Regions from separate parts of the Homo sapiens genome. Here regions 1 and 3 are each linked to region 2. The links come from fine-mapping of genetic effects on gene expression. A gene starts in region 2. Each other region holds a variant in brackets. All regions are shown on one strand. Distances are between the middles of the regions.

Region 1 (2,767 bases), 100 kb before region 2:
AACAAAAAATTTAACAGTAAAACAAAATAAGTAAACACATAATATAAATTGTCTAATTTAAATGCTTTAAGTCAACATTTAAGAACTATTTTAATGGCTAAGTCATTGTTCCAATTTTAAGTAGCTTCAGCATTCTGACTTGGTCTCTACAAAGTACTTATGGTGTTCTTACTAAAAATAAAAAGGAAAGGGAATTATTTTGCCTTTTAATTCTTATCCTATTATTTTCAATTTATAAGTACATTAAATACATAATGTATGTCTTTTGTATCTCTCCTCTCTGAATATGTACCTACTTATATCCATGAGATGATACTCTACACAAACTCCTAGCAATTGCTATTCTACTTTGAATCACAAAGAATATATTATCTTTAAAAAAGTGCTATTTAAATAATTAATCTTGAGACAGGAGTTATCAGAAGACAGTGCAACTATTTCAGAAAGCATGACTAGTTCCTCAGGATATGCTACCTACATTTTGAATTTCTGGAATAAAAGAAAATAAGGTTCCTAAACTCTCTCTGTACTAATCCTACATGGGCAGCTAAGCCTCCCTGGCAAGCAATTACTGGGAGTTGTGGTAGCCCAGTGAGGTGTGTTGCTAACAATGTGAGCAGGTTTATGAGATTTATTCGTCCATGTGAAAATCTTGTTAAGTATGCTCAAATCAAGGACAAATCTTTGGGCAGTATCAATCAAAAGAAAGAAAAATACTCATTCAGTGCACCTTAAACAATTCCTTACTTAGAATGCTAATATTACAGCCACAAACAGGACCTGAATGTCATTTAAAAATTCTCCCCATCCAAGATCTTTTGTTTTGGGGGAAAATAAGCTGAAAAACAGGAATGAGCACTCTGAATACATGAGTGGTTTATTTTTAAGACCCCATGCTGGCTGCCCACAAGGAAAGGATTAAGGTTAAGCTTTGAAAATTAGCTTCCTATCTTGAAAGGAAAAACTATGCTGAAACATTGTTTTTTTAAAAAATAAAAAATAAAAAACACATAAACACATAACCAAAAGTGTTATCCAAATGATCTGTACAACTTACGAGACCCAAAGGTTCCATTATTGTGTTTTCTCCTGTCTAAAGGGAGCAATATCATCAATAAAATATTAACTTTTTTCAAGGTTTAAGGCCCTATCACTGGGCTACTTAGATATGAAATATCAGATTTTGGGAGTTGGATGTGATTCTCTTGCCAATTAAGAAATAATACAGATTACCAAGAGAGACTGTATACACATAAAAAATAAACCATGGTTAAACTACTGCCTGAATGATCTGGAAAAACACCCCCAAAACCCTCAAACTTGTGGTGGGGCTAATCAGGTCATTTTTACTGATTAGATACGTGACACTCGATTGTGTTAATTTTCTCCTTACTTAAGAGACTCCCTTTCAACACCATGAAAATAATACTCAAGTAGAGAATAAGAGAAAGAACTTCAACATTCCAAAGACTAATTTTGACTGTGGAGAAAACCCAGTGAATCTCAAACATGGGCCAACTGCCAAGAAGTGGTACAAAGAGGGAGGAAGAAGAATAAAGCCAGCATGGACCTGGCCAAA[T/C]TGGCTTCAACACCAAGGGGCCCATGGGGTGCTAAGGGAAAGGCTAAACAGCTAAATCCAGTCGAAAGACCTATCAGGATTTCATTTGTAATGACTCTCCTACCTCCCTCCTTCCTACAGAGTGTTCCAGCCACTTTTTAGGCCTTTATTATTTTCTACCAGAGGACTGCACAATAGTTTTCCTTGCTATTAAATCGGTCTTCCAAATGTACACTTCCAGCATGTCCCTCCATTGCCATCATGTTCTTCCATCATGTCCCTAATTCATGGCATTCCCATGCCCACAGAACGAAATCCTGGCACTCAATGCTCTCTCTAAGCCTGGGTCAATTACAAGACTGGTGTTGCCAGTTGATGGATCTGCCTTTTGGACAGATAATTTAATTTTTCTGAGCTACACTTTTCTTATTGGCAAAAAGAAGGAGTTCATTGGATAATAAGTGTGAGATAGCAGTGTAAACCATAAAAGTTGAACAAAGATGCAGTCTTTTTATTACTGATCCAACACATTTTCTGCTACTATTCTTCTTCAAGTCTAATCCCCTAAATATACTTTATCACTATTTACCCTTTTTGCTTATGATTTCTGCCACTTGTAATTCTCTGTTTCCCACTCCCTCTTTGCTGCCTGGAATAACAAAGTCTGCATGGTTTCCTGCTTCCTCCTCTGAACCCCCAAAGTAAGCAATAAATAATAGCTCTTGTTCATGAAGTACTTATGAGTATTTTTCTAGGTGGTTCACATTGTTCCCCTAACAGCCCTGTAATTGCTCCCATTTTATAGGCTGCTTTTTCCAAGGCCACAGAGCAAGGGAGGTCCAAAGTTGCAGGTGGCAGGCCAGTGCAGTGGTTAAGGAGCTGTGATGATTCCTGTTCATTCACTGCATTCCCTTTTATATTCATGAACAAGAACAGTAAGGCTGTGTTCCATTAAACAGCAAGAATGTACATTTCCGCTGTATACTACTGGTAGTGAGGCAGAGGGGCTGCCTGTTAAAGGAAAAGAGAGAAACCTTCAAGATATGGCCAGAAGAGAGATGAAGCATGCCTGTTTGGCTGGCATTTGAAAAAATGTGCTTCTGTTTGTTTTGAGAGTTTAGATTCTATGTCACTCTACAGCATAAAGAGGTTTCATATATAGACACATATATTATTTCATCCTTTTTATCTAATTTGGCATTGATATAC
Region 2 (2,767 bases):
AACAATTCATATACTGATTTTGAATGGCAAATATTTTAAATGGTAATTCAAAAGTTTACAGATCTTGTTTTAAACTTCAAGGTCCACTCAAGCCTTACAAAGTGTCAATAAGAGAAAAATATATTAATTGGGTAAATGTTTGTTATATCACCTTCTGAAGATAAGTTTGTTTAATATAACGTTTGGGAAATTTATTAAAGCAAAAATATTTTCTTCCTTAAAAAGTGCTATCAATTTAATGTTGTTATCTGTTGTCCTTTCAAATGTTAAATGCTTCATTTTTTTCATATCAAAGTGTGTAAAAGTTACTTATGTATTGCAATGAACATATATGTACCGCTTTATTCAATACCACACAAATATATTTGAGATTTGTGCAGCAATTCAGAAAAGAGATATGAAGTCATCTCCCTGCAAGAATATGGTCCTGCATTACATTTATCTAGAGCATAACAAAAGTAATTGTTAACAATTAATTTGTAATTATTTCTTAATGATCCTGATCGCTCATAATTTGGAGGTTGGGAATTCTACTTCTAGGATGAAACCCTGTGGCTCATAAAGTACTAGGTACAAAGTGTCATAATTTTCCCCATGCCATAATGTTTTTCTTTGAAAACAAATCAAAACAATAATAAAAGCGCTCCTGTTAGCTTGGGCTTTGCCCACAGGACAGCTGTTGTCAGTCACTACAATTTTTCAAACAGTCAGCTTGTACTTACAGCGCTTACATCTGCTGCATCCACCAGTTTAATGTGTTCCTTCGAATTTTCTGGGTTAGCAAACCTCCATTCCTGACATAGTTTTGCTCCTGGATGGGTACGCGCGGGGGCTCTCAGGCGCTCTGGTGCAGCCGCGGCGCTTCTGGGAGTGGAGCGCCTCTGCAGGGGAAAGCTCGGCGCAGGGGGCAGGCGCCTGGCCGCTGCCGCAGGCTCGGGCTGCCGAGCGACTGAGCGAAAACGTGTTCCCCAGGAAGAAACCCGCCACAGTGGACGGCAACAGGAAGGCTTAAAGTCGGAAGTGGCACTGGAGAGTTTCTACCTCGCCCCAAACTCGGAGCCATCAGCTCCCACCGTTCTGTTTGGTAACAGCTTTGCGCCCAGCGCTCCTTCCCCACCAAACAGCAGCGGCAGATAGCATCTGAGAACCCTAGACAAAGAAACAGCAGAATCTCATCCCTCGATTTGTTTGCGCAGCCTTGTAGGTCTGCCCATGGAGCCTCGGGGCTTTCTTTTTTTTTTTTTTTTTTTTTTTTTGGTTTTTGCAACGCAAACCACAGCTATTCTCTTGTCCTAACCTTATTGGTTTAAATGCAACAATTGAAAGGAGCACTGCTCTGTCTGACTCAACCTTGCTGTTTAAAAAAAAAAAAATTATGTAAATGAACGCGCCCCACGCTATCTGAATAAACAGCTGTGTGAGAATAACTTCTCTGAGACGTGGTCAACACACACGCGTCCTCTTGCAACAGTAGTTACCAATTAAGATCTTTGGGGAGTAGTTACACGTTATCTTTTACACTTTTCCTAAACTTTTTTCAGGCCCTGAAACTTAGGGAATCCACTACTTTTCATAATTTATTTCCTAACTAACGTACCTACTACTGAAACAGGTCTGGGGGAAATAAAAAACTAGAATGGCCATTTCCCTTTAAGTAGAAAATGAAAAAGCAAACGTGCAAGCTTTTATCAGTTTAATAATGAAAGCCTGAAGGATGAATCCGAAATGATTTCTAGAATGGCAAATCTTCTGTGAACAATTCCTTGGCTATGAACCAGATAATGTTTCAGTGTTAATATTTTTAAATGGTTTTTGGAAAAGATTCATGTTATCTAGAACTCTTTCTTTACAGCTTATTCTTTTAAAAAAAAATTCTTACTGACCTCGGAATCTATGCATGACAGTCTATAACACTCACCTAAAGAGCTGAGCTTCAGTTAAGATATGTTTTATACAGATACATGACTTTGGTGATAAGACTTAACCATTATGTTGATTTCAAATATTCAAAGAAGGCATCGTTTATGTGACTAATGATTGTATCTCAATTTGCCAGACCTGTGCCAACATTCAAATACAAATGTTTATTTTGATACTAGTCACTCGTTGTAACCAATTTTGTGCTCTAAAATAAAATCTTTAAGCCCATCGGATTTTTCTTAAAACTGTTTTGTCATCACCCATAGAATACTATTCTGCTGATTAGGTCTTTTATTTAAGGAAAAAAAAAGCGTCCTCATTTTTTAGGCGCTTGATAGATGTGAAAAAAATTTTAAAAATCACAATAACTTTTTGCATGACTTTATAATACATTTCCAGATCGTCAACTAATAAAACACATAGACACAATCATAACTTTATATTGCTAATATGTAAATGAAAGCACCATTCCGATGCAAACAAAAAATAAAAAGCTGCTAATGACCAAAATTTATTACAGACTTCCCCCCAACCACCGAAAGTATGCCAATCTGAATTCCTCAGAAAAGAACACTTTGTCAAACATAAACGACAGTTTAAACTGCAAACTCACCTAGGATTTCATTTTGTATAGTACCAGCAAGGAATCATGGGCTAGTCATCTACCATATTTGGGAAGCCAGGTCAAAACACAGTTGATTGCTATTGGATCTGTTCATATATGCAGCAGAAATAGAATTATGTTACCACCTACTGCACTTTCTCAGACCAGAAGTATCAGTTATTCAATATACTAAAGTATATATGCAGAAAATAAAATACAGCTTGTAATGGAGATTTCTAGCAT
Region 3 (2,767 bases), 220 kb after region 2:
TCCCTGGGTACTTTCTCTGGGTACTAGAGCCTGGAAACTTTTTCTACTTAGTAATCTGGGGCAATTATAGAGCTTACCTCACTGGTTTCTTGCCCATCAGGGATCACTGTCCTTAGCTTTTACATGTCCAATATCTTTATAACTATTTTTTCATATATTTTGTCAGTTGTGTCAGGTGAGAGGATAAAACTGGTCCCTATTACAAAATTGTGAAGTTTGGTTCCTGTTACAATTTTGGCTGAAAGTATAAGTCTAACAATAGATTTTGATGAGTCAAAAGGACATATTATAATTTATAGTATGAGAATAAAATATCAAGAAAACTTTTAATTTCCAAACCAATAAAGCTGAAAATGGAATTTAAAAAATTAGCCTAAAATAAGGCAAGAATAGAGTGAAAAAGTAACAAAGAACAGGCAAAACAAATAGAAAGACATACTAAAATGGTAGATTTAATACAATACATTAGTAACTACATTAAAATTAAATTTACTAAATTATTCAATCAAAAGACATTAATACTGAATTAAACAAAAACTCATTATGTGCTGTTTTCATTTTTCTTCTCTTTTTTGAGATACAGTCTTGCTCTCTCACCCAGGCTGTAGTGCAGTGGCACGATCTCAGCTCATTGCAACCTCTGCCTTCTGAGTTCAAGCAATTTTTGTGCCTTAGCCCAATGAGTAGCTGGGATTACAGGAGTGCACCACCACACCAGGCTAATTTTTGTATTTTCAGTAGAGATAAGGTTTCGCCATGTTGCCCAGGCTGGTCTCAAACTCCTGGCCTGAAGTGATTTGCCTGCCTTGGCCTCCCAAAGTGCTGGGATTACAGGCATGAGCCACTTTGCGCAGCCATGTGCTGTTTTCAAAAGTAGTAACTATTACACAAGCTTACAGAAAGTTTGAAAATTAAATAATGGAAAAAATATATGCCCTGTTGAGCTAAAAACAACTGGTGAAGCTATATTAATATTAAACAAATTAAAAGCATAGAATGTAAGGAAAATATTACTAGAGATGAATCATTTCTTGATATT[C/CTT]TTTTTTTTTTTTTTTTTTTTTTGAGACAGTCTCGCTCTGTCACCAAGGCTGGAGTGCAGTGGGACGATCTTGGCTCACTGCACCCTCTGCCTCCCAGGTTCAAGCGATTCTCCTGCCTCAGTCTTTTGAGTAGCTGGGACTACAGGCATGCACCACCACACTTGGCTAATTTTTTTTTTGTATTTTTACTAGAGACAGGGTTTCACCATACTGGTCAGGCTGGTCTCAATCTCCTGACCTCAAATGATCCATCCGCCTCGGCCTCCCAAAGTGCTGGGATTACAGGCATGAGCCACCGTGCCCAGCCGATCTTCTTAATAGGAATATATAATTACAAATTTTTAAGTGTCCAATAAGGTTGTCTCAATACAGCAGAAATTAAGCCATGAAGCAAGAAGTCCATAGAAGGCATACTGTATAAGTTCATGACCACAATACAATTAAAAATACAATTTTTATTACTAATAGAAATTAGTAATAAAACAATATCTAGAAAATTCTCCTATGTTTAGAAAATAGATAATACATCACTAAATAACCCACGTGTAAAAACAAATCATAAAGGAAATTAGAAAATATTTTGAACAGAATAGTAATGAATATACAATACTTTCACACTGATAGGAAAATTGATATCCTTAAATGCGTATATAAGACAAGAACCAAGGTTGAAAGTTAATGAGTTAACCTTTTATCTCTGGTAGTTAGAAAAAGAATTCCAACTCAATAAAAAAAAAAGAGAGAGAGAGAAGCAAATAATGAAGACATAACGTTACTGAAACAGCTGTGTTTTTTTAAAAAAAAACAAAAACAAAAACAAAAACCCCACAGTTATTGGATAAATTAATTCTGTCTTCTTGAAATTTCAACAACAGCTAAAGAAACAAACAAACAAAATAAAAAACCTGGCCAGACAGAATGGCTCATGCCTGTAATCCCAGCACTTTGCGAGGCCAAGATGGGTGGTTTGCTTGAGCCCAGGAGTTTGAGCTCAACCTGGGCAACATGGCAAAACCTCATCTCTACAAAAACTACAAAAATTAGCCAGACATAATGGTGCACACACCTGTGGCTGCAGCTACTTGAGAGGTTGAGGCAGAGAATTGCCGCTTGAGCCTGGTAAGTGGAGGCTGCAATGAGCTCTGATTGCACCACTGTACTCCAGCCTTGGCAACAGAGCAAGACTCTGTCTCAAAAAAATAAATAAATAAAAATTTAAAATTTAAAATTTAAAAATAACAAAATACAAAACTCTCTGGGACTAGTTGGATCTCTGGAAAACTCTACTAAACATAAAAGGAAGAACAAACTTTTTCAGAGAATTGAAAAAAAGAGAACACTCCTTAACTTATTTTTATAAGACCAGCATAATCCTAATATTCAAAGCTATTATAGGAAAATAATAATTTAGGCTGATATTACTCATGAGGATAGATGCAAAAATTCTAAACAAAATACATACAAGTGGCCGAGGGCTGTGGCTCATGCCTGTAATCCCAGCACTTTGGGAGACCAAAGCAGGCAGAATACGAGGTCAAGAGTTTGAGACCAGCCTGACCAACATGGTGAAACTCCATCTCTACTAAAAATACAAAAATTAGGTGGGCGTGGTGGTGCATGCCTGTAATCCCAGCTACTCAGGATGCTGAGGCAGGAGAATCACTTGAACCCAGGAGGCAGAGGTTGCAGTGAGTTGAGATTATGCCGTTATGCTCCAGCCTGGGCTA

Direction of the effects. Positions count from the first base shown, and alleles are read on the strand shown. Sizes are in standard deviations (SD) of each study's normalised expression.
As copies of T replace C in region 1, the expression in anterior cingulate cortex of the gene that starts at base 1,145 in region 2 goes up (moderate effect, 0.67 SD a copy in GTEx).
In carriers of allele C in region 3, the expression in subcutaneous fat of the gene that starts at base 1,145 in region 2 tends to be lower than with CTT alone (moderate effect, 0.67 SD a copy in TwinsUK).

What was found.
Region 1: its variant is fine-mapped to the expression of EYA1 in anterior cingulate cortex (GTEx, PIP above 0.99). The same link has a PIP of 0.9 or more in cerebral cortex.
Region 3: its variant is fine-mapped to the expression of EYA1 in subcutaneous fat (TwinsUK, PIP 0.95).

The regions. Positions count from the first base shown.
Region 1 is chr8:71,260,175-71,262,941 of GRCh38, forward strand. The region is part of intron 11 of EYA1 (EYA transcriptional coactivator and phosphatase 1); the gene reads right to left. Among named protein-coding and RNA genes, the nearest start is that of EYA1, 100 kb to the right of the region's middle. The variant T/C (reference allele first, on the strand shown) is at 1,580.
Region 2 is chr8:71,360,925-71,363,691 of GRCh38, forward strand. It overlaps EYA1 (EYA transcriptional coactivator and phosphatase 1), which reads right to left and starts at 1,145. Exons shown (of 18, transcript NM_000503.6): 1 at 723-1,145. RefSeq lists enhancers at 552-1,073, 826-935.
Region 3 is chr8:71,578,178-71,580,944 of GRCh38, forward strand. No RefSeq gene overlaps it. Among named protein-coding and RNA genes, the nearest start is that of EYA1, 220 kb to the left of the region's middle. The variant C/CTT (reference allele first, on the strand shown) is at 1,040.